4 linked regions of the Homo sapiens genome follow. The protein of the gene in region 1 interacts with the protein of each later gene in a biochemical or structural test. Each region holds a gene or a part of one and is shown on either strand. Other genes may lie near its edges. The genes, in order: RGS7, PKD1, CHRM5 and CHRM2.

Evidence for each region.
Region 2: the proteins of RGS7 (region 1) and PKD1 form a complex in vitro, tested with the Homo sapiens proteins (one study listed by BioGRID).
Region 3: the proteins of RGS7 (region 1) and CHRM5 form a complex in vitro, tested with the Homo sapiens proteins (one study listed by BioGRID).
Region 4: the proteins of RGS7 (region 1) and CHRM2 form a complex in vitro, tested with the Homo sapiens proteins (one study listed by BioGRID).

What each region holds. Positions count from the first base shown.
Region 1 is NC_000001.11:240,808,198-240,815,224, forward strand, and holds part of RGS7 (regulator of G-protein signaling 7), read right to left. Parts: intron 6,581-7,027; coding exon 6,519-6,580; intron 5,532-6,518; coding exon 5,421-5,531; intron 3,847-5,420; coding exon 3,721-3,846; intron 1-3,720. UniProt on the Homo sapiens protein: GTPase activator component of the RGS7-GNB5 complex that regulates G protein-coupled receptor signaling cascades.
Region 2 is NC_000016.10:2,111,899-2,118,925, reverse strand, and holds part of PKD1 (polycystin-1 isoform 1 precursor), read left to right. Parts: intron 1-80; coding exon 81-250; intron 251-463; coding exon 464-1,135; intron 1,136-1,253; coding exon 1,254-1,437; intron 1,438-1,872; coding exon 1,873-2,093; intron 2,094-2,281; coding exon 2,282-2,397; intron 2,398-2,807; coding exon 2,808-2,934; intron 2,935-3,300; coding exon 3,301-3,548; intron 3,549-3,775; coding exon of another isoform or gene 3,776-3,891; intron 3,892-4,000; coding exon 4,001-4,756; intron 4,757-5,633; coding exon 5,634-5,765; exon of another isoform or gene 5,766-5,769; intron 5,770-5,860; coding exon of another isoform or gene 5,861-5,885; intron 5,886-5,962; coding exon 5,963-6,138; intron 6,139-6,452; coding exon 6,453-6,586; intron 6,587-7,027. UniProt on the Homo sapiens protein: Component of a heteromeric calcium-permeable ion channel formed by PKD1 and PKD2 that is activated by interaction between PKD1 and a Wnt family member, such as WNT3A and WNT9B. Both PKD1 and PKD2 are required for channel activity.
Region 3 is NC_000015.10:33,971,475-33,978,501, reverse strand, and holds part of CHRM5 (muscarinic acetylcholine receptor M5), read right to left. Parts: intron 1-7,027. UniProt on the Homo sapiens protein: The muscarinic acetylcholine receptor mediates various cellular responses, including inhibition of adenylate cyclase, breakdown of phosphoinositides and modulation of potassium channels through the action of G proteins.
Region 4 is NC_000007.14:136,871,626-136,878,652, reverse strand, and holds part of CHRM2 (muscarinic acetylcholine receptor M2), read right to left. Parts: intron 1-7,027. UniProt on the Homo sapiens protein: The muscarinic acetylcholine receptor mediates various cellular responses, including inhibition of adenylate cyclase, breakdown of phosphoinositides and modulation of potassium channels through the action of G proteins.

The sequences.
Region 1 (7,027 bases):
ATTGGCCGTAACACCAGGAAGTACATGAATGGCTCTCTAGGAAGAGAACGAACTAGACGGTCTGGGAAAGGCAAGCAGGAAAGAGCCCCTCTGCTGGGGCAAGTGCTGGATTGGAAAAGGGGGATCTAGACAAAGCTATTCTAAATCCAGTGACATCTGAAATGGGCCTGGAAATAAGCATAAAATATAAAGGGGTTGAGAAGTTAATAACCACACCTACACTGTTATGTAAGTGCAGGCACTGCTCTAAGTGATTCACCTATATTAACTCATTTAATTCCCACAGTAATTCTATTAGGCAAGTTCTATTATTTCCCTCATTTTAGAGAAGAGGAAACTAAGCATATGAAGATTAAGTTGCTTATTTAAGGTTGCTCACTATTACTGTCACAGCTGAGGTTTGCTCCCAGAAGATCTGCAGCAGATGACATGCTCACAACCACTCCCTCACACGGTCTTTCTAACAGCATCATTGCCTTTCTTATTCTCACCATTACTGTAATTATTGTAATAGCTTAATAGCATGGAGGAGCCAGGTGCAATGGCTTGCACCTGTGGTCCTAGCTACTCAGGAGGCTGAGGTGGGAGGATCAGTTGAGCCCAGGATTTCAAGGCTGCTATGAGCTATGACAGTGTCTCTGAACTGCAGCCTGGGTGTCAGAGAAAGATCCCATCTCTCTTAAAAAAAAAAAAAAATCCTATATCCTTTATATAGGTGGAAGCTAAGTAAGTATTTTTAATGTCTTTGATTCTTGATTTCCTCATCAGTAAAATGGGATGATAACGCCTATTTCACTGGGTTTCCACTGGATTAATTGGTTTCCATTGGATTAGTTGATTAAATTAATTCCGTTAATGTATACTAATGATATAAATTATATAGAAGGCACTGAAAAGTACTTGGCATATTTTTAGTCACTCAAAGATAAAAACTCATGATATTACTATGTTTTCTTAGCACTTGCTCTATGCTATGTGTTTTGCTCAAAAAAAAGAATGAGGGAAATACATCATAAAATTTCAAGTTTCTGCTCTCTATTAGGGAGAGCAGAGGGTATATTTGAAGCATAAGTAGTTATCGAGAAACAGTGCTTCTTATTTTTTTCCTGTCCTAATATTTGAAAAAAAATGCTCAGACGAGTGACACACTCACTGATAGCAGGAGGGCAGCTGTTTAGGTAAGATGCACGGAGAGTTATTTTATTTTAAGTGCAATTCACAGCCCTGTTGACCACTGGACCATTTTGTCTCCTTCAGTGTGTGACACAGATATGTCAGTGGAAGCAGAGTAGGGCTCAGATTTGGGGAGCAGTGGACAGTAGCTTGGTACTGGTTTGTAGGAAACCAAGAATGCCACTTACATGCAATCTGACCTCCTTAGCCACACTTTCTCGGCTTAACCTTCCTCAGCCACGCTTTTCTCATCTATAAAATGAGGCAATATTTACATTTTATGTTGTTTTGGTGGTTGGATGTGTGATGATCAGAAATAATGAATGCAAAATATAACAGCATACTTATAAAAGTAGTAGATATAAAATATATTCTGGTGTCTTGTAGGTATTCAAGAATTAATCTACATCTTTCATTTATCTACTGATCTATACTTACTAAGGAAACATATGATAGGCAATATAGTAGATACTCAAGAAATATATGTATATGTGTGTATGTATATAATGTGTGTGTATATATATAAGATAATCTAATATTTCTTAGATATAATCACTTAGCCTAGAGTCTAGTACGGCATAGAATGATTAAGATATGAAATGATTAAAGCTTGAACTAAGAAATTGGCAGGAATTCAATTCATGCCTGAAACCTAGTATGCACATGCTATCCTCTTTTTCCAAAGGCATCTTCTCTCTTCCTGTTTTGATGGTTTATCTCCTCCCCATTGTCCAGCTCTTAGCCTAGAAGCGATTTCCCCTAGTATCCCTTCGCTGATCTCTAACTCTGGGCTAGGCATCCCTCTCTGCTTCTCCCAACTAAACACCCATGATTTTGTGCTGTGATTTGTTTTCTTGTCTGTATCTACCAATAGACTGTAATTTTAATGAGAGAAGGCGATGTTTTTATTTGGCTAGGTGAGGCTGGTAAGGCTTATTACTTATTTATTTACTCATGATGATACAAATGATATCAGCATGTTTTCAAAAACTTAGAGAATGAGAGGAATGTCCATCTCCCTAGCCACTAAAATGCCTCAAGGATCCTTTATCTCTGCTTTATTTTTAATGCATTCTTTTTTTTTTTTTTTTTTTGAGACAGAGTCTTGCTCTGTTGCCCAGGCTGGAGTGCAGTGGTGCAATCTCAGCTCACTGCAACCTCCACCTCCTGGGTTTAAGCGATTCTCATTCCTCAGCCTCCCCAGTAGCTGGCACTACAGGCATGTGCCACCATGCCCGGTTAATTTTAATTTTAATTTTTTGTAGAGATGGAGTTTGCCATGTTGGCCAGGCTGCTCTCAAATTCCTGGCCTCAAGAGAGCCACCTGCCTCGGCTCCCAAAGTGCTGGGATTATAGGCGTGAGCCCTCGCACCTAGCCTTTTAATGAATTCTTGCACTCAATTATTGACAATGTGACCTAATATAGAAAATGTTATTAGTAGTCTCAATACAGAACTTTAGCAACTTTAGCAGCAAGATCTTGCAAAAGCCCAAGCATGAAGGGTTCCCATAAACTGGAAGGAGAATAGGAAGCTGCATGCCAGCAATCCATGCCAGGCACACACAGAGAGTTACATTCCTCCGGGTTCTGTCTGTGGTCATTTTGCTTCATCCATGCGACATGTGTCAGCGTCCTACATCTTTCTGAATGGTTTGGGATTCCTACCTGTTAAATCTCCTGAAAAGAACGTGACCATGCCTGGCACTACTTCGTTCCAATGAAAATAAATGAATGCAGAGAACTTTCAGTAAATGAATTTTACAGGACTGCATAAGTCATGGAAAAGTAAAAATTGGGCATCAGCTTTCAAAAGAATAATGAATGAAAGAACTCATGAAACAACAGTCTTATATAGTGGAAAGTTATCACTCCCTTCAATGATGTTAAATAGAGCTATTAAAATCCACTCTAATGTCTTATATTTAAAAATGCAATTTTCAGATCCTCCTTATGTTAGCAAGTTTTAAAAATATATAAAGATGATGTTTACAACAGATGGGCAGAATGGGTGTCACTCTCTCACGAACAGCTCAATGCTGTGCTGCTCTCAATTGCCCTGTGGCTATTATTTAAACATGCAAAGAGAATGAGACAGCCCAATAGTTTGGTTTCAAGTTATTTGATATAGCTGCCCAGTCTCTTCTTCTCTAACTTGCTTGAGAAGTGATACGCAAAGATAGTCAACAATGACAAATAGGTGATATTTTAATTGAACTTCATAAATGTTATTGGCCAATCTCCACTTTGCCAAACATTGTTCTCTGTACTGCATTTCTTTACAGAGTCCATTTCAAAGCCACCAAATTTGTATAGTTAAAACATCTGGAGATACAGAGACGGCGTAAAAATAAGTTATAAGAAATTGATACGTTGGACAGCCTTTGCCTTGCTATCTCTTTTCCCTTCATTAGGTGGCAGAAATTCAATGGGTTCATGACATCATTATGATGTTAGTGGAAGAATAATTGATCTATTACCTCCAAAATAACCAGACACATCACAGACAGTATTTCTCTGGCTTATAAGATCCAAGCAATGTGTTTTACCTTAAATTTTCCGAGCTGAATTCTGACTCTAGAAATTTAAGGAACTGTTCTCTCCCAACTGGGTCTTTCAATGCCTCGTCCATGCCAAAACCCCATCGTTTTACCCTCTGCTGGCTCGGTTCTTTGCTATAGAAGATAAAACAAAGGCAAATACATTCCTTTCATTAGAATTCCCATTTTTTTGTTATTACATTCCCCTTCAAAATCATGTGTGCCTCGAAGTTCCCATCTTTACCTTTTCTTTAAAAATATATATATCCGATTAACGGCTCTGCATGAAATCATCGTGTACATTAGTATTAATAATAAAGTCTAACATTTATTGAGCATTATGTGCCAGGCACTTTACATAAATGGTCTCTTTTTGTTTTTGCCAACCACTTTATGAGATAGCCACTATTAATCTTATTATTTTCCAGATGAGGACAGTGAGGCACAGTATTATCACTTGCCAATGTCAGGCAAGTAATAAGGGGTAAAGATCCAGATATTCTGACCCCAGTGCCACATTTCTTTTTTCTTTTTTTTTTTTTTGAGATGGAGTTTTGCTCTTGTCACCCAGGTTGGAGTGCAATGGCGTGATCTCGGCTCACTGCAACCTCCACCTCCCGGGTTCAAGAGAGTCTCCTGCTTCAGCCTCCCGGGTAGCTGGTATTACAGGCACCTGCCACTATGCCCGGCTACTTTTTGTATTTTTAGTAGAGATGGGGTTTCACCACTTTGGTCAGGCTGGTCTCGAACTCCTGACCTCAGGTGATCCACCCACCAAAGCGTCCCAAAGTGTTGGGATTACAGGTGTGCGCCACCATGCCAGGCACACATTTCTTAACCACTACGCCACACAGGGTCATGCAGGTATATTGAACTGGGGAAAATGCATTGGTAACCAAAAGATCTCAATACTAGCTAATGATTCTGGTGTCAATTAAATCTGTGACCTAATCCCAACTGAGTCACAACATTTTGGGGTTCCAGCTTTCTCATCTATAAAATCTTTAGCTTGTGGAGGAAGAGTTCTGGGCATGTCCAGTGTTTAAGATTCATGGCTGGATGCAAAAGTGAGAGAGACCAGAAATGCAATCTAGAGAACTGCTAGAAGTGTGACAGAGCACCCATCTTTTCTTTGTAAAGTGATACGCCATGATCCTCTTATGAGTCTGTTAAGACTGATGATGTAGTTCTTTCCCTAGATAGCTCATGAAAGAAACTATGGAGTCCTAAGTGGTGCTTTGCTTTTCTTAGGAAGTGTCTTGCCAGTTTCTCTTACAGTGTCTATGGTAAGCTCATTCTGTCTTAAAATTGAATTTATAAAGACATACTTGTGTTGGGCTTAAGTATGTATGGCTTTAGCATTCACTTTACTTGACTACATGAGACTTTGTGGCTACGTGAATTTTCCAGGAAGATAATAGCAATGAGCTAAATTTCAAGAGCTGAAGATCCTAACTCTGACTAATTGCACCTCTAATTTTGGGACGGTCTTTCCAGCAATGCAAATCTTAATGCAAATGCAAATCTTAATGCAAATGCAAATGTCTAAGTTTCAAAAGCCATGATCTCGAACAAGAATGTTAGATATAGGCCAATGTAGATAAAGAACAAAATTACATTCACAATTAGCCAACAATAAAATCCTTCCCATTTCACTCAGACCCTGAAATAAAGCAACATATGGGCGAGAAAGATAAAATGCCACCTACCTTGCCTCAAGTTCCCAGAAAGTGGTGTCATCGGACAGCCATGGGTTAGAAGGGTCAGGTGGCAAAAGAAACGGGTCGTATTCTAAATACTGTTCCGTGTAACTTAGTAGACTAAGGAGAAAAAACATTTCCAGTTTCTTTAGTTTTCTGACTGGGGTTGCAGCCAGTCCAAAGCAGGGAAAACAATATAAAAATGTGGGACCAAGGAATCCTTGTTCACTTAAAGCATGAAATCCAATGGCAATCTTCACGCTTCAGTAACTTTCATGCAACAACTTATTGTGCTTCTTGGCAGACAACTGTGGCTAAAGATTCCATCTCTACCCATGCCTAAGCCATGTAAATCAGTATCCCTTGGTTAACATGAAGCACTATGGAAGAGGTCAGTGTGTGAAGGGCACCGCTAAGAGTCAGTTCCAATCTTTGGTTAATCAGTCCACCCACAGCAGAACAGATTTTATACAACTGAGAGAAGGGCTTAAAAGGGAAATTTTGTCAAAAGTATTTACAGGAATTAAGTAAAATGGGAGCCACTGACAAGTTTTTTAAATGTATATAAAAATTTTAAAAAGGGAGAAGGGAAAGAAGTTGGGGAGGTAGGATTTGGCAATGCCCAAAAGTGAAGAATATGAATGGCATTAAGAACAGATTTAAATGAAGCAAAGGAAAATATCTGAAATTTGAGTTTCATTCATATTCTGAAGTCAGGCAGGAACAGTGTCAATTGTCATTGTTAAAATAAGTTTATAGAGAGGCTCCAGTTTGCCCAAAGGTCATCAATAAATGGAAAGTTTCATGTCTTCCAGCAGGAGTGAAAAGGCTAGACTCTGCAGAATTATCCTCTATATCTGATTCTTAGTGGAACAAGGACTGGATGTCTAGACATTTAAGACAATTATAATCATTCTGTCATTTAAACTACATCAAAAGAGTTCTTTGAAAGTTTTTCTATGTGCAAAAAGGAAAACAAAATCACATTACTTACAGGATTCCAATTATCTGTCCCAACTCCTGTCCCCACAGTTCTCTTTCATTTTTAAACACATGTAATTGTCATATGAAATTTTAAAATTTATACAGACACTTTGAAATACTCACCTGTCAGCGACTTTTGACATTTTTAACCGATGTCTATCTAACTGTATTTGCCAATATTTTATCTGAAAAGAGGGTTAGAGAAGGAGTTACATAAGTAATGACATTTTCACAATTTTCCACTCTAAATCATGATCAGCTGGGCAATTCTGAACAAGAGTATAGTCTACGTCAGTACAATTTCAAAGTTGGTTAAAAAAATAGAAGCAGAGGGCTCTTAAAGAGTTAACAAAATGAAATGTTGGAATTTGAACACAATTGATATCACTTTAGAAGAGCAATGAGTTTGACCATTCTGCCTACTTTAACAAAATGTGATTTTATTTTAAAATTGTAGAGATTTTGCTGGGTGCAGTGGCTCATGCCTGTAATCCTAGCACTTTGGGAGGTCAAGGTGGGTGGATCACTTGAGCCCAGGAATTCGAGACCAGCCTGGCCAACATAGTGAGACCCTGTCTGTAAAAAAATATATACAAAAAGTAGCCAGGTGTAGTGGTGCAGGTACTATAGTC
Region 2 (7,027 bases), on another chromosome or scaffold:
CAGGGCCTGGTTGCCAGTGGGGGGCTGGCATAGACCCTTCCCACCAGACCTGGTCCCCAACACCTGCCCCTGCCCTGCAGAAACCTGAGTGGGAACCCGTTTGAGTGTGACTGTGGCCTGGCGTGGCTGCCGCGATGGGCGGAGGAGCAGCAGGTGCGGGTGGTGCAGCCCGAGGCAGCCACGTGTGCTGGGCCTGGCTCCCTGGCTGGCCAGCCTCTGCTTGGCATCCCCTTGCTGGACAGTGGCTGTGGTGAGTGCCGGTGGGTGGGGCCAGCTCTGTCCTTCCCAGCCAGGTGGGACCTGGGCCCTGCAGACACTGGGCAGGGCTCAGGAAGGCCTCTCTGGGGGGGGCCTCCGGGCCAAGGGAACAGCATGGGAGCCTGTGAGTGCGGCGGGCGGATGTGGGGGCGTGGGGTGGAGCCAGGAGGAGCAGAACCCGGGGTCCAGTGGCTGCCTCTTCTAGGTGAGGAGTATGTCGCCTGCCTCCCTGACAACAGCTCAGGCACCGTGGCAGCAGTGTCCTTTTCAGCTGCCCACGAAGGCCTGCTTCAGCCAGAGGCCTGCAGCGCCTTCTGCTTCTCCACCGGCCAGGGCCTCGCAGCCCTCTCGGAGCAGGGCTGGTGCCTGTGTGGGGCGGCCCAGCCCTCCAGTGCCTCCTTTGCCTGCCTGTCCCTCTGCTCCGGCCCCCCGCCACCTCCTGCCCCCACCTGTAGGGGCCCCACCCTCCTCCAGCACGTCTTCCCTGCCTCCCCAGGGGCCACCCTGGTGGGGCCCCACGGACCTCTGGCCTCTGGCCAGCTAGCAGCCTTCCACATCGCTGCCCCGCTCCCTGTCACTGCCACACGCTGGGACTTCGGAGACGGCTCCGCCGAGGTGGATGCCGCTGGGCCGGCTGCCTCGCATCGCTATGTGCTGCCTGGGCGCTATCACGTGACGGCCGTGCTGGCCCTGGGGGCCGGCTCAGCCCTGCTGGGGACAGACGTGCAGGTGGAAGCGGCACCTGCCGCCCTGGAGCTCGTGTGCCCGTCCTCGGTGCAGAGTGACGAGAGCCTCGACCTCAGCATCCAGAACCGCGGTGGTTCAGGCCTGGAGGCCGCCTACAGCATCGTGGCCCTGGGCGAGGAGCCGGCCCGAGGTGAGTGTCTGCTGCCCACTCCCCTTCCTCCCCAGGGCCATCCAGATGGGGCAGAGCCTGGTACCCCCGTCTTGGGCCCACACTGACCGTTGACACCCTCGTTCCCACCGGTCTCCAGCGGTGCACCCGCTCTGCCCCTCGGACACGGAGATCTTCCCTGGCAACGGGCACTGCTACCGCCTGGTGGTGGAGAAGGCGGCCTGGCTGCAGGCGCAGGAGCAGTGTCAGGCCTGGGCCGGGGCCGCCCTGGCAATGGTGGACAGTCCCGCCGTGCAGCGCTTCCTGGTCTCCCGGGTCACCAGGTGCCTGCCCCCACCCCCCGAGGGGCCATAGGTTGGGAGATCTCTGAAGCACTGGGGCAGAGCCTGCGGCTGGGGAGTCTCAGGAGGAAGGAGGTGGGAGCTGGGCCGGCCCTGGTGAGCAGGTGGCGCCGGCCGGTGGGGCCGTTCCTGTCAGCTCTGCAGATGCAGAGGTGGACATGAGCTGGGGGCAGCCTCCGGACACTCCTGGGCACGCCATACGGGAGGTGGCCTGCACGGGGATCCCTGCCGGTACCCACAGGCCCCGTGGGTGGGTGCTGCTGTGAGCCTGGGCTGGTGGGCCCTGGTCTCCGGGCTCTGAGCCTCAGTTTCCCCATCTGGAAAGGGGGACAGTGATGGGGCTCCCAGCGGGCTGCTGTGAGGGTGGGAGGATGGAGGAGTGCCCTGAGCCCCCTGCCATCCCACACCCGCCCCCAGGAGCCTAGACGTGTGGATCGGCTTCTCGACTGTGCAGGGGGTGGAGGTGGGCCCAGCGCCGCAGGGCGAGGCCTTCAGCCTGGAGAGCTGCCAGAACTGGCTGCCCGGGGAGCCACACCCAGCCACAGCCGAGCACTGCGTCCGGCTCGGGCCCACCGGGTGGTGTAACACCGACCTGTGCTCAGCGCCGCACAGCTACGTCTGCGAGCTGCAGCCCGGAGGTGTGCGGGGGGCCAGGCAGGGGCCTGAGACGCTGGCTGTGGTTAGGGGCCTGCCGAGCGCCCGCGGTGGAGCCTGGGCTGAGGAGGAGGGGCTGGTGGGGGGGTTTTCGGGCGGCTCGGTCCCCAGTCTGTTCGTCCTGGTGTCCTGGGCCCTGGCCCGGCGCCTCACTGTGCACTCGCCACCCCAGGCCCAGTGCAGGATGCCGAGAACCTCCTCGTGGGAGCGCCCAGTGGGGACCTGCAGGGACCCCTGACGCCTCTGGCACAGCAGGACGGCCTCTCAGCCCCGCACGAGCCCGTGGAGGTAGTCGGCCCCCCACGTTCTACAACCTGCCCTCCTGCCTGCCCCTGGAGGCCTTGCCTGCCCTGCCCACTGTGGGTCTCGCCAAAAAACTTGGGGGCCTTAATGTTGCTTGTGCCCAGTGAAGATGGTTGGGAAAATCCAGAGTGCAGAGAGGAAAGCGTTTACTCACATTACCTCCAGGCCTTTTCTCTGAGCGTGTGTGAGTTATTCCTGAAAGGCAGGTCAGGGGTCCTGCCCCCCATGGACAGTTTCCACCGGAGTCTTCCTCTCGAGCGACAGGAGCCAGGCCTGTGGGGGTCTGATGGCTCGCTCTCCTTCCCTCCCCTCTTCCTGGGAAGTTCGGGTAGGGGGAGTCTGGGCTTCAGGCTGGGATGGGGTCTGTGGAGCTGAGGCGGCCCCCTGCCCACCAGGTCATGGTATTCCCGGGCCTGCGTCTGAGCCGTGAAGCCTTCCTCACCACGGCCGAATTTGGGACCCAGGAGCTCCGGCGGCCCGCCCAGCTGCGGCTGCAGGTGTACCGGCTCCTCAGCACAGCAGGTGGGACTCTGGGTGGTGGGTGGTGGGTGGTGGGCGCCGCAGGACTCGGGGTGGCCTCTCTGAGCTTTCACGTCTGCTGGTCCTGTGGCCACCAGAGTGGTTCCCAGTCTTAGGTGGACAGAGCAGGGGTTCCAGAGACACCAGCTCATTCCAGGTGTCCTGGGGGTGGATTGGGTGGGGCCTGCCTGGGGGCCGGCCTGGGTCAGTCGGCTGGCCGGAGACGGACGCAGCACTGGGCTGGGAGTGCTGCCCAGGTGGGGAGACCTGTCCTCACAGCAAGGCCAGGATTGCTGGTGCAGGCAGTTGGGCATCTCTGACGGTGGCCTGTGGGCAAATCAGGGCCCCAACACCCTCCCCTCCTCACAGGGACCCCGGAGAACGGCAGCGAGCCTGAGAGCAGGTCCCCGGACAACAGGACCCAGCTGGCCCCCGCGTGCATGCCAGGGGGACGCTGGTGCCCTGGAGCCAACATCTGCTTGCCGCTGGACGCCTCCTGCCACCCCCAGGCCTGCGCCAATGGCTGCACGTCAGGGCCAGGGCTACCCGGGGCCCCCTATGCGCTATGGAGAGAGTTCCTCTTCTCCGTTCCCGCGGGGCCCCCCGCGCAGTACTCGGTGTGTGGCCCTGACCTGGGTCTGTTCCCTGCATCTCCTCAGGCCACCTTCCTGTCTGCTGCCCAGGGTCTGGGTCTGTGCACCAGACACACCCAGCCTGCAGGCCCCTCCCACGTCCTTGCCACCTCTGACCTCCGACCTCTGCAGTGCCCTCGGCCCTCTCCCAGTGGGAGAAGCTCTCGCCTGGGCCCTTGGCACGAGCTGTGCCTCCTCTTCCTCTCTCCCAGCACAGCTGCTCCTTCCTGTCTGCCAGGTCTTGGCCTGTGTCCTCTCCCCGTGTGTCCCCCGGTCTGCAACTGTCCTGCCTGTCCTTGTCACGAGCACTGTGGGGAGGCTCCTTGAGGTGTGGCTGACGAAGCGGGGAGCCCTGCGTGTCCACCCTCATCCGTCGTGCGGGGGTCCACGGGCCATGACCGTGAGGACGTGATGCAGCCCTGCCTCCCTCTCCACAGGTCACCCTCCACGGCCAGGATGTCCTCATGCTCCCTGGTGACCTCGTTGGCTTGCAGCACGACGCTGGCCCTGGCGCCCTCCTGCACTGCTCGCCGGCTCCCGGCCACCCTGGTCCCCGGGCCCCGTACCTCTCCGCCAACGCCTCGTCATGGCTGCCCCACTTGCCAGCCCAGCTGGAGGGCACTTGGGCCTGCCCTGCCTGTGCCCTGCGGCTGCTTGCAGCCACGGAACAGCTCACCGTGCTGCTGGGCTTGAGGCCCAACCCTGGACTGCGGCTGCCTGGGCGCTATGAGGTCCGGGCAGAGGTGGGCAATGGCGTGTCCAGGCACAACCTCTCCTGCAGCTTTGACGTGGTCTCCCCAGTGGCTGGGCTGCGGGTCATCTACCCTGCCCCCCGCGACGGCCGCCTCTACGTGCCCACCAACGGCTCAGCCTTGGTGCTCCAGGTGGACTCTGGTGCCAACGCCACGGCCACGGCTCGCTGGCCTGGGGGCAGTGTCAGCGCCCGCTTTGAGAATGTCTGCCCTGCCCTGGTGGCCACCTTCGTGCCCGGCTGCCCCTGGGAGACCAACGATACCCTGTTCTCAGTGGTAGCACTGCCGTGGCTCAGTGAGGGGGAGCACGTGGTGGACGTGGTGGTGGAAAACAGCGCCAGCCGGGCCAACCTCAGCCTGCGGGTGACGGCGGAGGAGCCCATCTGTGGCCTCCGCGCCACGCCCAGCCCCGAGGCCCGTGTACTGCAGGGAGTCCTAGTGGTGAGTATGGCCGAGGCTCCACCACCAGCCCCCAGGCAGGTGCCTGCAGACAGGGTGCTCACACAGGGCGTGAGGCCTGGCTTCCCAGTGAGGGCAGCAGCCCAGTTACTGGGGACGTCGGCCCCGGGCAGGTCCTGCTGGCTGGCTCCTCGGGCTACCTGGTGGGCTTTAAATTCCTGGAAAGTCACGGCTCTGACAGTGGCTCCGCTAACTCATTCCACTGTCTCATTTCACAAAATGAATTTAAAACTCTGCTCCCTGACCTCACACGAGCCCCCGTGAGTCTCTCACGCCCTCTGCTGTGTTCTCGCCTGGCTAAAGCGAGTGGCTTTTGAGGTGGAGTCTGAACCCCTGATGGGAAACTGCGGGCTGCCCGCGGTGCCACCATGCTGGGTACATGGGGGACAGGGCTGTCTCCATCTTGCGGGTACCTGCCTCTTCACCAGGGGCCTTGGGAGGGGCCATCAGAAATGGCGTGACCTGTGCAGCCTGTCCTGGGTTCTGTAAGCCAGTGTAGGTGCCTCCCCTCACTGCTCCGAGCTCTCTGGGTGAGGAGCTGGGGCAAGAGCGCCGGGAGGGTCTGAGAAGACTCAGAGAGAGGTGGACTCTTTGTAGCTGGTACTAGGTTTGCTTTACAGATGGGGAAACTGAGGCACAGAGAGGTTGAGGCATTAGTAGTACTACATGGCTGGCTGGAGAGCCGGACAGTGAGTGTCCCAGCCCGGGCTTGGCTCCCATGGCATGCAGAGCCCCGGGCACCTCCTCTCCTCTGTGCCCCGCGTGGGACTCTCCAGCCCGACGGGAGGTGTGTCCAGGAGGCGACAGGCTAAGGGCAGAGTCCTCCACAGAGCCCAGGCTGACACCATTCCCCCCGCAGAGGTACAGCCCCGTGGTGGAGGCCGGCTCGGACATGGTCTTCCGGTGGACCATCAACGACAAGCAGTCCCTGACCTTCCAGAACGTGGTCTTCAATGTCATTTATCAGAGCGCGGCGGTCTTCAAGCTCTCAGTAGGTGGGCGGGGGTGGGGAGGGGAGGGGATGGGGCGGGGCAGGGCGGGGGCGGGCTCCACCTTCACCTCTGCCTTCTGCTCTGCTTCATGCTGCCCGAGGACGCTGCCATGGCTGTGGGTGAGTGGAGGGAGGGACGCCAATCAGGGCCAGGCCTCTCACCTGCCACCTGGGCTCACTGACGCCTGTCCCTGCAGCTGACGGCCTCCAACCACGTGAGCAACGTCACCGTGAACTACAACGTAACCGTGGAGCGGATGAACAGGATGCAGGGTCTGCAGGTCTCCACAGTGCCGGCCGTGCTGTCCCCCAATGCCACGCTAGCACTGACGGCGGGCGTGCTGGTGGACTCGGCCGTGGAGGTGGCCTTCCTGTGAGTGACTCGGGGGCCGGTTTGGGGTGGGCACCAGGCTCTTGTCCCAGCCCCAGCCTCAGCCGAGGGACCCCCACATCACGGGGTTGCTTTTCTGAGCCTCGGTTTCCCTGTCTGTTGGGAGGTAACTGGGTGCACAGGAGCCCTGAGGCTGCACGGGAGCCGGGAGAGGCCTCAGCACAGCCGGGTGGGCCCTGAATGGAGGCCCGGGGCGTGACTGCAGAGTGGAGCCTCGGCTGGGTCCCAAGCACCCCCTGCCCCGCCACCGCCCACCCCTGTCCCGGTTCACTCACTGCGTCCCACCGCCCCGGCAGGTGGACCTTTGGGGATGGGGAGCAGGCCCTCCACCAGTTCCAGCCTCCGTACAACGAGTCCTTCCCGGTTCCAGACCCCTCGGTGGCCCAGGTGCTGGTGGAGCACAATGTCATGCACACCTACGCTGCCCCAGGTGAGGGATGAGGGGGTGAGGGGGCCACTGCCTTTCAGGCTCTGAGCACGGGGTCCCCCCAGCTCCCCAGTCAAGCTGCCCCCCTTCCTCCCCAACAGCCCTCACTGTGACCTCACCTGGGCTGATGGCTTAGGCCCCTACTGGGGTGAGGGAGGGGCCAGGCGTGGGGGGAGTGGACAGGGAAGCTGGGCCCCTGAACTGCGCCCCCCGCCCTCCCCGGGCCTGGCTCTTGCTGCTCTGCTGCCCCGAGTGCAGCTGCACTTGGAGGCGGTGCCGTCCTCGCCAGGCAGCCCTCAGTGCTGCTACACCTGTGCTCCGTCCCGCACGTGGCTTGGGAGCCTGGGACCCTTAAGGCTGGGCCGCAGGTGCAGCCGTTCACCCCGGGCTCCTCAGGCGGGGGGCTTCTGCCGAGCGGGTGGGGAGCAGGTGGGGGTGCCGCGG
Region 3 (7,027 bases), on another chromosome or scaffold:
AGTAGAGACAGGGTTTCACCATGTTGATCAGGCTGGTTTTGAACTCCTGACCTCAGGTGATCCTCCCACCTCGGGCTCCTAAAGTGCTGGGATTACAGGCGTGAGCCATCGTGCCCGGCCTGTACGCTTTAATTTTCATTTGATGTTTTATTTCCAATTATTAAATGTACTCCCCCACTCTGTTTTTCTCACTCAAGAGACTTCCTGTGTCTACAGTGGGTTTGCTGTAGTCTAGTACCACACATGTTCAGAGGATGCTCAGGAAATATTAGTAATACGTGTCACTTTGTTCAGAACGGCCAGTCTGCATTGGTTCTGCCTAGAGAGAAATTTCCTCTTTCTTCATGTACTTGGATCGCTAAGGTTTTCTGGTTGAATTTCTATGTTTTTAAAATAGTTTTATATAGACATAGTGACTTTTGAAATGGTCCTCCCTCCCTCCCTACCTCTCTCGCTTCCTCCTCCATCCTTCCATCCCTCCCTCCCTCCCTCCCTTCCTCTCTTCCTTTTCTTCCTTTCTTTTTCCTTTTCTCTTTCTCTTTCTTTTCTTTTCTTTTTTCTCTGTTTTGACAGGGCTCGTTCTGTCACCCAGGCTGGAGTGCAGTGGCGTGTTCACAGCTTGCTGCGGCTTTGACCTCCTGGGCTCAAGCAATCCTCCTGCCTTGGCCTCCAAAGTGTTAGAATTACACGGGTGAACTACCACACCTGGCCTGAAATAGTCCTTTCTAATTCAAACCTGGCTGTTTTGCCAGGGAGGACTTACTTGCTCTGAGACCATATTATTGGAAACTTAGAGTGTAATAGAGAACGTTTGATTCTTCACTTGTAGAAATAGTCAGAATTTCAAGGTTCAAAATTTCACAGACATAGACATAGGGCTGTAATGAGAAGGAAAATATGTATGTACCATCCTTTCTTCCAAAGTGTCCTTGGAGGAGAGCAAGCATAAGAATGGTGCTCAGTGAGGCCACGAGGCTGGGATACAACACCCTGAATCAAAGCACGCTGTCATAGCCTCCTAACAAAAGAGAATGTCAAGGTTTGAAACCGGAATTCATTATAATATGCAGTATTTTATGTACTTGTAAATAAAAGTAAGGGAGTATAGGAGGAGATGATAAGGGGAGGATTTGTTTTGAATCTGTCTCATCTTCTGCTTTGTTGAAGTGCTAATCAGATGATCTTTCTATCCTACCAATATATGAGAAAAAGTGTCTTAGAGTAAGAGTATTGGAGCTTGTTCTTGTTATCCTAAAGGCAAGCTTCCCTGTCTCATGTAAGAACTCCAGCTTTTTGTGTTCCCTTTAAATGTATATTTTGTGTTTTTTGTTCATTTTGTTGCTAAAAAAGGTAGTGCGGATTTTGTTAGTGAGGAGACAGCCTTTCAACCTTCCTATCTCCTTGGTACCAATTTAAGCCAAAAATTATTTTTTTCTATACAAGATATTAACCTTGCCATAACTAATTCATGCCATTGTGACCATGAGTTTAGCTATCTCTTTTCTATATAAGGAATCACTGCTGGGAATTGGTTTCCTTCCCAAGGGACCCTGTAATTTTGATTATTTTACTTCCATCCAGGATGTCACTATACCACAGGAGGCTGGCTGACTCAGGGATGGGAAGAAAAGGCATAGAAAAATAAAGTAGCTTATGTTTCTATGCCTAGGATGTTTGTTTCAAAAGTTCAGCTGGGGATCTGAGACAGGAAAGGTACAATAAATTTATGTTAAAAATTTCAGCTGGTCATCTGAGACAGGAGAGGTACAATACATTTATGTTAAATTTTTTTTTTGTTTCTGTCTTGCTGTTTACATTTATTTAAAATATTTTAAATGGAGATATACCATTATGCCTGCAGAAGGTCCTATTCCTGATACTTAAAAAGCCTAAATAAAGATATATAAATTTTAACCAGTTCCTAATACACTTACAGAATAAAAGTGTGTTGTCTACTGGAGTTTTTCTTCCCAGATCCATTTATGGAGAGGCCATAAAAAATCTGATGCGGGCATGGCAGAAATTTATATTAAAGCTGTGTAATAAGTCCATGGGTATTGGTTGTTGGTTTAAAATAACTCTACTTAAAATTGAATCTCAAGAATATATTTGAAAATATTTTAAAGTATTTTAGAGAAAAAAGCGACATTACTCACTTAGGAGATTGACTTCAAAGCAGGAATCATTTGAGATTTTGGATGAATAGTTATGAGAATTCCTTAGTGAACAGGACAGTGCTGGAGATGATCACTGAATGCAAATGAATACATTGTAATATAAATAGTATGTCATAATAATTGAAACATGGCTTTTTTAGATGGAAGATCATATTTCCTCTTTTAAAAGTTGATTTTATCCAATATATCCTGCTGGTTGTAATATTTAGTTATATATGGAGGTTCAAGCTTAAATACTTGAGCCCCATCTCACTTGCAAAAGCAAGTAAATTGCAGAGTTCACAAACCTGGAAACAACTCAGGACAACTCCAGTGTTTGGTATAATGTTGTTAGGTGAAATAATACTAGAATATTATGCAAGGGACCTGGTATTTCTTTCTTTTCTTTTCTTCTTTTGAGACATAGTCACTCTGTCACCCAGGCTGGAGTGCAGTGGCACAATCTAGGCTCACTGTAACCTCCGCTGCCCGGGTTCAAGGGATTCTTCTGCCTCAGCCTCCCGAGTAGCTGGGACTACAGGCATGTGCCACCACGCCCGGCTAATTTTTGTATTCTCAGTAGAGATGGGATTTCACCATGTTGGTCAGGCTGGTCTTGAACTCCTGACCTCATGATTCACCTGCCTCGGCCTCCCAAAGTGCTGGGATTACAGGCGTGAGCCACCGTGCCCAGCTGGGACCTGGTATTTCTAACAAATTCTGTTGTTTTCTCACACTGAATTCTGAGTTCTATTATGACAAATTCTCACTTTTTGTTTCTATGCTTTCTTGATTGCAAATAATTTTTTGAGATTTTGTTAATTTTAGTTACTTCTGGAATATTCCAACCCAAATTATAGATGTTTAGTCCTTTTTAAAATCAACTTATAATTTATTTGAATCCTAGGTCTTAGTTGCTTGATCAATGTTTAGGCAGCAGAATAATTGAGTAGCATTCCGCATAGCTAAGTAGCACTGTTTCGCAACCTGTGCCCTCTTGCTCTAGAAAATACTATTGCTTGACATATACCAGGAGTTTTAGGTTAGAGTATTTGGCAGTGTCTATATGGAATCAAAAACTTGCATTAAAATGGAGAAGAATATCTTTGTGAATCCTCTAGATGGCAGAACAATTACAACAAACATATCTTAGAAGGTGTCCAAGAAGCGTGTGGAGGAGAGAGTGTAGAAGAGATGGGGTGAGAAGGGGACCTGCGGGCTCTAAGCTTTCTGTCTCAACCCAACCAGGGCAGATCTGCTCTTATATGTCTTATATCTTGATATTTTATCTAAGATGGTGTTTGAAAGAAGGAACATGGCTAAAAACATGATAGGATGTCAAAACTCAAAATCTGTTGTTCTTTTTTTCCTTCAGGATAGAGTTTCGCCCTTGTTGCTCAGGCTGGAGCGTAATGGTGCAATCTTGGCTCACTGCAAGCTCCACCTCCTGGGTTCAAGCGATTCTCCGGCCCCAGCCTCCAAGTAGCGGGGATTACAGGCATGCACCACCACACCCGGCTAATTTTTGTATTTTTATTAGAAACGGGGTTTCAACATGTTGGCCAGGCTGGTCTCAAACCCCTGACCTCAGGTGATCCACCTGCCTCGGCCTCCCAAAGTGCTGGGATTACAGGCGTGAGCCACTGTGCCCGGCCCAAAGCTCAAAATCTTAAGTTGTGCACGCCAACATCAAATCACAGATTTCTGTGAGGACGTACACATGCATTATTCATGTACCCTGAGCATCTTCAGACTATAGCTGCCCCCACCCCAACACACATGTTGATGAATTCTAGAGTGATGCTGGCCTACTTCAACACTCTGCTACTTTAATTTCTATCATAGGGGTTGAGGCACAGCATAGTCTTTTAGCCTTTGTCCCTGCTTTTAAAGAAATCACCATTGTTGGTATATTGTATGTTGGCATAAGGAGAAGAGATGACTTGGGGAGATATAACATAGGTAACTTGCAAAGATTCATTCCTCACAGAGAGTGAAAGAGGGAGAGGGGGCAGGTAGAGCATCCAACAGAATAAATGTAAGATTTTAAGTGTGTCACTTTCTCCACTCATCTTTGAATAGAAAGATGACTGTAGTATCTCTTCAATTTCATTTGCAAAGTACTTATTCAAATTCCCCTGAAGTCACTTTTTAATAGCAAGACCAATTTAGATCCTTTTGGATTATCGATGAAATTCTAGATCTAGTAGTATAGCAAACGTGATTTCCATATGTCAAATAGAGCAAAAGCATAAGGGATAAATTTGCTATCCTGTATTTGCATACCTCATAATATCATATACTATCCCTAACAGATATTATCTCCTTATAGCTATTATTTCAGTATAAACTACTTTAAAAGACTCCTTCATTAGACTTTTCTGCAGTTACCTACTTGCCTATTATCAGTGAAATGCAGCTGAGGTATATTTTAGGATCACTATTCTTCTGGCTGTCTGAGATTGTACCTGAGAATGCATTAAGATACATTTTCACATTCATTTAACACATCTGCTGATTAACTAGTCCTGAGCTTACCTTGGGAATAGACAGATAAATTAGATGTGGTCTTTACTCTTAAGGCCCTCAACCATGAAAAATGCAATTTCGTATGTCAGACAACTATATAAATAGATTTTCTTATTTTTTTAACTTTTAGATTTTTTTATAGAGATGGAGTCTTGCTGTGTTGCCTAGGTGGGTCTCGAACTCCTGGCCTCAAGCGATCCTCCAGCTTTGGCCTCCCAGAGTGCTGGGATTACAGGTTGCGCTTGGCCATAAATAGGTTTTCAATGGAATCTAACAAGGTGTTATGAAAGAAGTATCCTCAAAGTGTTGGGGAAGTTCCTAGGCATGAGAAGCTCTTCTGTAGGTATTACCAGAAGTTACCCAGAAGTTACTGCATGTAGAGGACTGTCTTTGCAACACAAATGAAGGGAAGGTATACAGTTGATGAAATATTAAGAGTTGTACTATGTTATATACTGAGCCTGATAGATTTACACCAACAGCTTTCTAGGTTACTGTACCAAAAAATTCTATAAATAGCTAAGGATTTTTAGTTGATAACTGAACTGGAAATCATCTCTGGCTTTTGCTTCTTAAAGAACACATTATTCAGTGCTACATTTCTATAGTGATAATCAGGAAATAAGAAGGCCCACGTAGTCTGATGATGACAACAGTGTGACGTCAAACAATGTCTATAAAAGTGGTAATGTTTTCTGATTGGTCCAGATTCTTGAGTTATTTCACTAATAATTTCAATACAAAAAATGGAGAATGTCAGATCTTTAAACAACTGCTGAATAACCCATTGGTTGTAATGAACCAGTACATAGGACTGAATAAATGCTTTAAGAATTCTCTACACACCACTGGATCAAGCAATCTGTGTAACTGTAGATAATGAGACTTCAGCTTGACTTGTAATTATGCGTGGAGTAGTTAACTGTATTTTTTACACATCATCTTTGTATAGGCTCTGAGTCTAGGAGGGTCAGTCACAAATGACTGATACTCTGAATCAGGGTATTGCCACTAATCAAAGGACAGACTGCACATGTGTTCAGTGTGGAAGGATTAGTTGGTCTGCTTTGTCTTTTGGCTACTGTTGCAAACAAAGATTACAAAAAGAGGTCTGTATATGCCTATGTGTTTGTAAAAGGAGCTTTCATTTTTGTTTCCTTAATTGAACCCTAACTCCTGATTTATTTTTATTTATTTTTTACAAATATTTGTTGAAGACTTTCAGAGAACACAGAAGTTTTGCTAATTCAAGACAGTCCTTTGTTTTTTTGTTTTTGTTTTTGTTTTTGTTTTCTGTTGTTGTTTTTGTTTTTTAACAAATCCATGCTGTTTTAGAAAGGTGTTAACCAGCCCCCTCCCTGCCCTCATACTAGTCCATGTGTCAGATACTAATTAATCTATGTCATGGGATCACTTTATAATCTATATTTAGGGATCTCTTTCTCATTCAGAGACACCGTCTTTCTCATTTTGGGTGTTTTGGTAATTTTTCAATTTTCTGAGTAGCATCAGTATTTCTGCTTGAACCAAGGTGAAATTTTGCATCTATTTCTCAGTTCTCTAGGGGCCTCTTTCATGACTGTCTGCTTGCTTACTGGTATTTTCCTTACTCCCGTTTTATCATGGTCTGTGAATTTAACCAACATGATGTTTACTCCCGCTTTTGAATTATTAATGAGAAAACTGTGAGATGGTACTTTTATCTTTAATAGTTGATGCTGAAAAAGTGACAAATGCAATAAAAGCATCTTTCTCTAATTCAGTTCCTGTCATGCATCTCTTTAGTGTCTTGGTGATATGACTTGAAATAATAGTGCTTACATCTCTCTTTTAGCTAGTTCACACTGAAAGCATATAATCATCTGTTTGATATCAGAGCCACTTCCCAGTCACAGATTGTGATGTCACAAACCAAAGATTGTTCTCTCTCAGCAGGAAGAAGCTGGAGAGGAGATGATCTTCATGGTGAACTACATCCTTATTCAAATTTGGTCACTTCATAAGGAAAATTAACCATAATAAGGAACAAATATATTGGCTAGTTGAAATGCCCAGTTGAATTAAGCTTGAAACACGGTGCCATTATAATGGAATGAAAAAAATTCCTTATGAAAACTTAAAGTTATAATAATGAAGATATAAGTAAATATATATTTAATGCATTTAAAAATATTATGCAATGTCCCTTTAAGTTGAATGCTAACACAGAAAAATGAATTTTAGGTATGTTTCTAATTTTATATACAAAATTATGTTGCTTGGTATTTCAGACAAAAATTACTTTTTAAGATTGTTATGTCAACATACACGAAATGGATGTGTTCATTTTGACCTAGATGCCA
Region 4 (7,027 bases), on another chromosome or scaffold:
ATAGGTTCTAAAATTTGGTAAACACTCAAAAAACAGCAGCTGTCATTTCGTGGTTTTTGTTGCCATTATTATTGTCACAGAAGAGTATCTCACCCCAAATTCTGAAATTTCCCCTGATAAGGATATAACTAGCCATGGAAAATATCCAGTCAGGCTTATTTTAAAATAAAGCAAAACTGAGATTGCTTGTTTACTGTTGAATGATACCCAGTTGCCAGAGAGAATAGAAATTAAACCTATATCATCTACCCTTCCTCCTGCCTTCAGTACCTCCATCCAGCATAGCACAAAGAAAAATAAAGTCTTTATTATTTAGGCTTACATGCGAAGACATAACTGCCTACTCCACTGATAAAATCTCATAGAAAAGTAATTTTGAGGATAAAGCAAGAAAACAGTGGGCATATCTGGGAAACATGCTTTGGCCCTGGGGCTGCTCTTTATCTTCTCCCTAAAATGAAACCAAATGCCCTGATGCTCTCCAAAGAACACAATTAAGTAGAATTTTCTTATCACTTTCTATTTTCATGCTGGTTATGGTAGAAGCTCTTCCCTTTGTAACAGTGCCAAGGAAGGCAGAGTATTAGAAAATCTTCATCGTGTTCAACAATGTAAAACAGGTTGTGAAATGTATTTTTTTCCTCTACCAATCAAATTATTCTGTGCTTATCTTTTATAGAAAGGAAGAAAAATTAGGCTTCAGGTAATTATTTAGCTCACGATCACATTCCTCCTAAAGAGTTCCTTGGTAGTTAATTAAATAAGAAATAAGAAGCTTGTTTTCCAACATGATTCTGTCTTGTTTATTGGCTTGGCATGAATGAGGAGGTGAAGAACAGCTTATTTGCTTTATTCAAACAGAAGAATCATCAGCATGACTAAGGGTGAACAATAACATCAAGAAAAGTCATTATAACTTTCTTATTCCTAGAGGAGGTATCATACCCGCCTGTTACTTGGGATCATCAGAATGCAACAACATTTTGCAACAATGACAGTGAAATGTATCAGCATTAACATTTAAGACAATTCTCTCACTTTCTCTAACTCCTCCACTAGAGTTGGGAGAGAAGAAGAGGAAGAAGTCCAGGTGCTTGATCCAGCTACATTAGTAATAAGAATCTACACAGAACACCAGATAGAAGAATGCAGAGAGGAGCTCTGGAATCATGAAGATATATATGATCTGTGAAGATATTAAACGAATGAAAGGAATTTAAGAAGGAAAAAAATAAGAAATAGAAAAGAAATCAAGTACTTATTTCTTAAGTAGCCGAGACTGATTTAACTCCAAGGACATATTGTATGCAAATGGGACTGTGTCCCATCTAAACACACAGGTATCTAGGTTTCCTCTACATTGAAAGATGTGCTTCTTAATCTATAGCTGTCTTCCTGAACCGTTATTCATTGTTCACACTAGAATTTGCCTAACAAATCAAAAAGTCTCCGGCTACAGCAAAGCTCTCTGTCCGGGCCCTAATGGAAAATACATATAGTACTATTGGCAGCAACATTTTGAGTTGTACATCCTATCTTCTTTCCTCCTTGATGCCTTCTATGTTCCAGTTCATCAATCTGTTATTTAAAATGTAGTCCTGTGATTTCCCACCTCAGTATCATGGAAGGGGCTGGTTAAAAATCTAGATTCCTGTCCCTAATTCCCAGCCTGACTCAATGTCTTTACAAGAGGAATAAAGTGTCTCAGATACTCAACCTGTGAATTAATCTCTTTTAAATGACTTCTTAGAAGATAGTAGTTATTTAAGTAATTCAGAATCTTATCATTTAAAGCACTATACCTGGTGACATGAATATTGACTTTTGAAAAAGTGGGCCCAGTTCTGCCAAGAGGTCAATATTCAAGGATATTTAGGATTCTCAGCCTCAGAAAAGAGAGGTCCTGTTTTTCTGAGCCCAATAAATACAGATAGCTTCAAAAGACTGCCTCGTTACTACAGTTTTTGTTATGTATTTTGCACTAATCTTAAAAATGTAGATCCTCAGTTTTATTGTTGCTGTTACTCATTGTCCATGTGCTGGAAATTTGAACTTAAAATAGCCCTCAGCCTATGAAGTTGCCTACAGTTTCTTTGATACGATAAAATGGAGGGGTACTGTGGGTATCTATGCGGTTGCACACTATGCAATAAAATAATAGTAAAATTATTTTGAAAATAGAAAGTGGTTTTAAAAATTCCACTTAATTGTGTTATTTGGAAACATCAGGGCATTTGGTTTCGTTTTAAAGAGAAGACAGAAATACAAATGTAAGTGTATATTGCCATCATTTATAAAATATGGCCTCTATTCTCACGTCATCTGTATCCCTAACAAGTTCTAGCTGTTACTCTACTACCAGCACCAGATAAAACCATCCAAGTTGCCTAGCATTTTTATAAGTTAACTCCTTTGTAAATAATTTGTTTTTTAAAATAAAAACACCCATGGCTTCGCCTTCCAAAACATGTTGCTATGAATAATAAGGGCTAAAAATGTCATTATTATTATATTGATTAGGTATATAAAAATAACAGGAATATACTGAGCACCTAGTGGGCACCAGGTGGTGCACATGGCTGTGAGAGATTAAATGAGATAGAGGATGCCAAATATTCATTAACTTCATCATATTATATCATACCTTTTCATGAGTATTATTATTAGTTTGAGGAATGGCTAGAGTATAAGTGTGAAGCTTATCATTGCCTGTTAGTATTATAATAATAATAAATTCCACGAAGAGGAGGAAGAGGAGGAGGAGAATAAAGGGGAAATAAATATATTGGCTAGTATTTATTTAGCATGTACACTGTACCAGTCATTACACTAAGCTATGTGCATGGATTCTTTCCTTGTGCAGTTGGAGGATGAAGAAATGCCTGTGAGAAAGATGGCTGGCAAAACAGCTCTATGAGCTATGGAAGCTCTCACATGGGTTTGATCTCAGGGTTTATCCTAGACTGTTGAGAAACACTGAAGAATTTTAAACAGGAGAACGACATGTTCAGATTTGCATTTTAGAAAGGTCACTCTGGCAATGTGAGGAGTAGCTTGTACTAGAGAAAGACTGGAGAGTGGGAGACCGGTTAGAAGCATATGGCTCTGGTGATAGTTCATGTGAGAGGTGCGAAAGGTCTGAAAAGATGCCCGGATGGAAAGAGGGGGATGGATTCCAGGGAAGCCTCTGAGGGAACAGATTTAACCTGGGGTCTGATCAGAGGGCAGCAGTGGAATTTGGAATGAGAAAGAAAGAAGATATGTTTATAGCATATCAACCTCACTTCTAGTTTGCCATGTATTTAGGGATTAATAAAAATGTGCAGCTTGATATTATTATTCACACAATCATGTAAGTAAGAGTAAAACGTCTACGTTTCTCACCTAACAAATACCTCCACTCTTTCTTTCTCACGCGTGTGTGTATGTGTGTATGTATATGTATATATGTATATATATTTTTTTCTTGCTGGAGATATATATATATATATAAAATTCATGTGTGTGTATGTGTGTGTATATATATGTATATATGTGTGTATATATGTATATATGTGTATATATGTATATATGTGTATATATATACACACATACACACACATGCATTTTTTACATATATATATATATATTCAGCAAGAAAAATGTTTCCATTCTAAAGATAGAAGACTTCCATTTAGAAGTCTTAAAGACTTAAATGTGCAGAATATTCTATCAGACTATCCTCCCAGGGATATCTCGGTGGCATCTCTTTTTCTTCCATAAGAACATTTTCATAACAATGTTAAACCTGTAAGGGTATAAATATCCTTCCCACCCCTTTGCCATAACTGTATACATAGTAAACAACATTTGACATGCCCAGACAACAAATGTATTCTACTAATCTCTTTGCTTAAAAACATATTAATTCAAAGTCCTTCTTGCTTAGGTCCAGTTGAATTTTTGTTTGAAATTGAAATTCTCCCTAAGCTTTAAAACGGATGTCCTTGTCCTATCCAATCCAATGTGCTTCCAGTTATTGAACACCAGAGGGCATCATTCAGTGAAAGCTTGGATTTGGGAGGGAAGAGGGGAGAGAGGGGGGGCAGAGAGAGAGGGAGGGCATGGGGGAAGACAGAGAAAAAAAAGAGAGACAGAAGGAATTCCATTACTAATGAAAGAAAATGAGAAAACTGAGTTTTTAGTGTGTACCCTTATCTACCATGAAACATTACCATGGTAACAGCACCAGTTAAGATGATTGTATATTTAGGTCATAGTATAAAAGAAGGAGCTAGAACATGTGAAGAAAAAAAAAGAGAAATAAATAAAGTAAGACAAAGATATATAAAGAGTGGAAAGAGGCAAACCAACTGGAACCTACCTCATTCTTTGCTAATAGCAGTTTACAAAGTAACATTATACTTTTCAAAGCACATGTGGATAATAAATACTAATTAAAAGTAAATGGGGCCATTGAAATTCAGAATCTTAAGTGCCAACAATCTTATAGAAAAAGAGAACTCATTTAGCATGAAAAAATGGAGAGACAACTAGACTGGGATTGGGATGTGTGTGTTCTTATGCAGTTCTTGGTTAGCTGTGTCACCTTGAAAAAGTCTCTTGATCTGCTTCCTATCATGAACTCAGCTGAATGATATCAAAATTATCTTTTATTACTATGCATCAGACAAAAGAACTTCTGTTTAATAATGTCTTAGTATTGCTGAGAGGTGAAAATGGCATCTGCCAAAATTTTGGTGCCCTCGTTTACCTCTGCCAGAGGCAATCACTGACTAAACAAGACAAGCACGTGCCAACTAAGAGCCTACTCAGCACTGCCTCTTCTTTGCTTAAGGTTTGGAGGATCTAACAAAAACATGCAAAGTTGTATTAACAGATGGGGAGAACATCATTGAACTTCTGAATGCCATGGTTTTGTTTTCCCCAAACACAGGGAAAACAAGTGCCACAACTATTTATAGCGAACCGATTGACACACTATAAGAACTAAGACAGTGGAGTCCAACAAGCTTGTGTTTGAATCCAGGGGCTGCAACTTACTAGCTGTATGATCTCGGGTCATTACCAGACCCCTCTGAATGCTGATTTCTTCCTGTAGAAAATAACATCTACTACATAGGATTGTTGCAAAGATAAAATGAGAAAATTGATTGCTGTATTAACTCATTCAAAAGAGATTTAATATGTTTCTTAGGTATGCCTGGCTGTATTTTAAGCAGTGAGGCTAAAGCAACTGACAAAACAGAAAATATCATATGGGAAGATGCTTAGAATAATGCCAAGGACTTAGAATACACACAGCAAAAATACCTGCCTAAGGAAAGGTGACTTGCATCTCTTTCCCCACATACCACCTCCACCACATAGGCCAGGTGAGCTGTGGGATATGCAATCAGTATACTTATGCCATTTATCTTAAATGAGAGAAGTCCTGATGCCTGCTCAATGAACCAAAGGTGGACAGAGTGGGTACAGGAAGCAAAAGCCAGTTGTTAGTAGTCACAAGGTGGACATTGGTGGCTTTCGATACATAGGAGTCTCTTGGGAACTATGCCACGGAGAGTCCATGTCATAAAATCTCAAGCAAGTCAAATATAAGTTTAAATAAAGAAAACCAATTCTTCAAGAGAACTGTGTGGCAAAATGTTTCTGTCAGTCTCTGTCCTATTGAGTAAAGTGGGAAAAGTTTAAGACAGGATTGAGAATGGTGTCTGGGTGATCTTGTGAAGATAATAGAAAGGGTTCGCTCACATGCATATTCTAAACAAAGGCTGACATCAGTGATGGAGGTTGAATCCAGCACGATTATTGATATACCTACAGATTCTTGTCCTCATTTTTCTCTCTCCCATTCCGTCTTCATTTCCCTTTTGTTCTAATTTCTTCTCTTCTCCCTCTTTTGTACTTGTTTTAACTTTACTCATTGTTGTGGGTCAGAGAGACATAGGACTCCTAATTAGCCAGCCTAACTTCCATTGAAGACAGTGTCATTCATGCTTTTTGTGCCTTCCCTACCTGCCAGCAGTCTGGGACTGTTTTCTTTGGATCTCTGAAACCACCCATTCCTATTGGCCCTGGGGAATGGCTGCTCTGGAATTGGAATTGGAAAATTGTCCAGTAAAGACACATCTGGATGCTTGACTATCTGGACTTTCTGGGCAATGAAGGCGATAGGGTCAAATTTAGAGCAATATGTGTTTTTGTTTGTTTGTTTTTTAACATGAAGACAACAGTCTCAGCCTCCCAAAATTGAAGGACCATGGGAACTCACTCCAAAGGGACTTTTACCAGTATTTCACCTGCTAGTTCTTTCCACATCTGACTCTGAAGTTAGTTGAGAGCTGAAAACATGCTCTTTGGGTTCCCTTTTACTGGAACTATGACAGTATTCAAATCCACCTATTTGCTCACTCCAATTTGCCTCCAGGCACCCTCAAGCACCCTTCTACAAACAAACATGCCTCTTTATTTTATAGGAAAATGAAGCATCTTTCAGACAGTCTAGCCCTGGGAATTTGGAGTCCCAAAACTTTCCCCCATTCCCACCCCACCTCATTCACAGAGCTTTATTTTAAAATGGTAAACAGATTTGGCTGGAGTTCTCACCTCTTTTTAGGGTCAGGTTAAATTTTTTAAGTTTTAATTGGCATTATTGTCTAGCCCAGGAAAGCAAATAGAGTCAATAGGAAGTTGCTTATCCATTGTATTGCTGCAACTGGAACACATTTTGATAATAGTAGTAACAATAATAATTCACCTGGCATTAATTTGTTACTTCTGAGTCCTCAGCTGCCAAGCCTGCAAAGCTGGGACATTGTTGGCACAAAATTCTTCCATTCGTTTGACAAGTCTCAAAAGTCCACTTTCTGAACTGCAGCCGAATACAGTTCCCAGCTTAAAATTGTCTCTTGGCCAAGTCAATTGTTCTTACTCCTGTGATCATCAGTGCCTTTATTATTAGCTCCCCAACAATGGCACAGGTATGCCTGTTTGTGGCTTCTGTTTAAAAATACCATCATCTCTT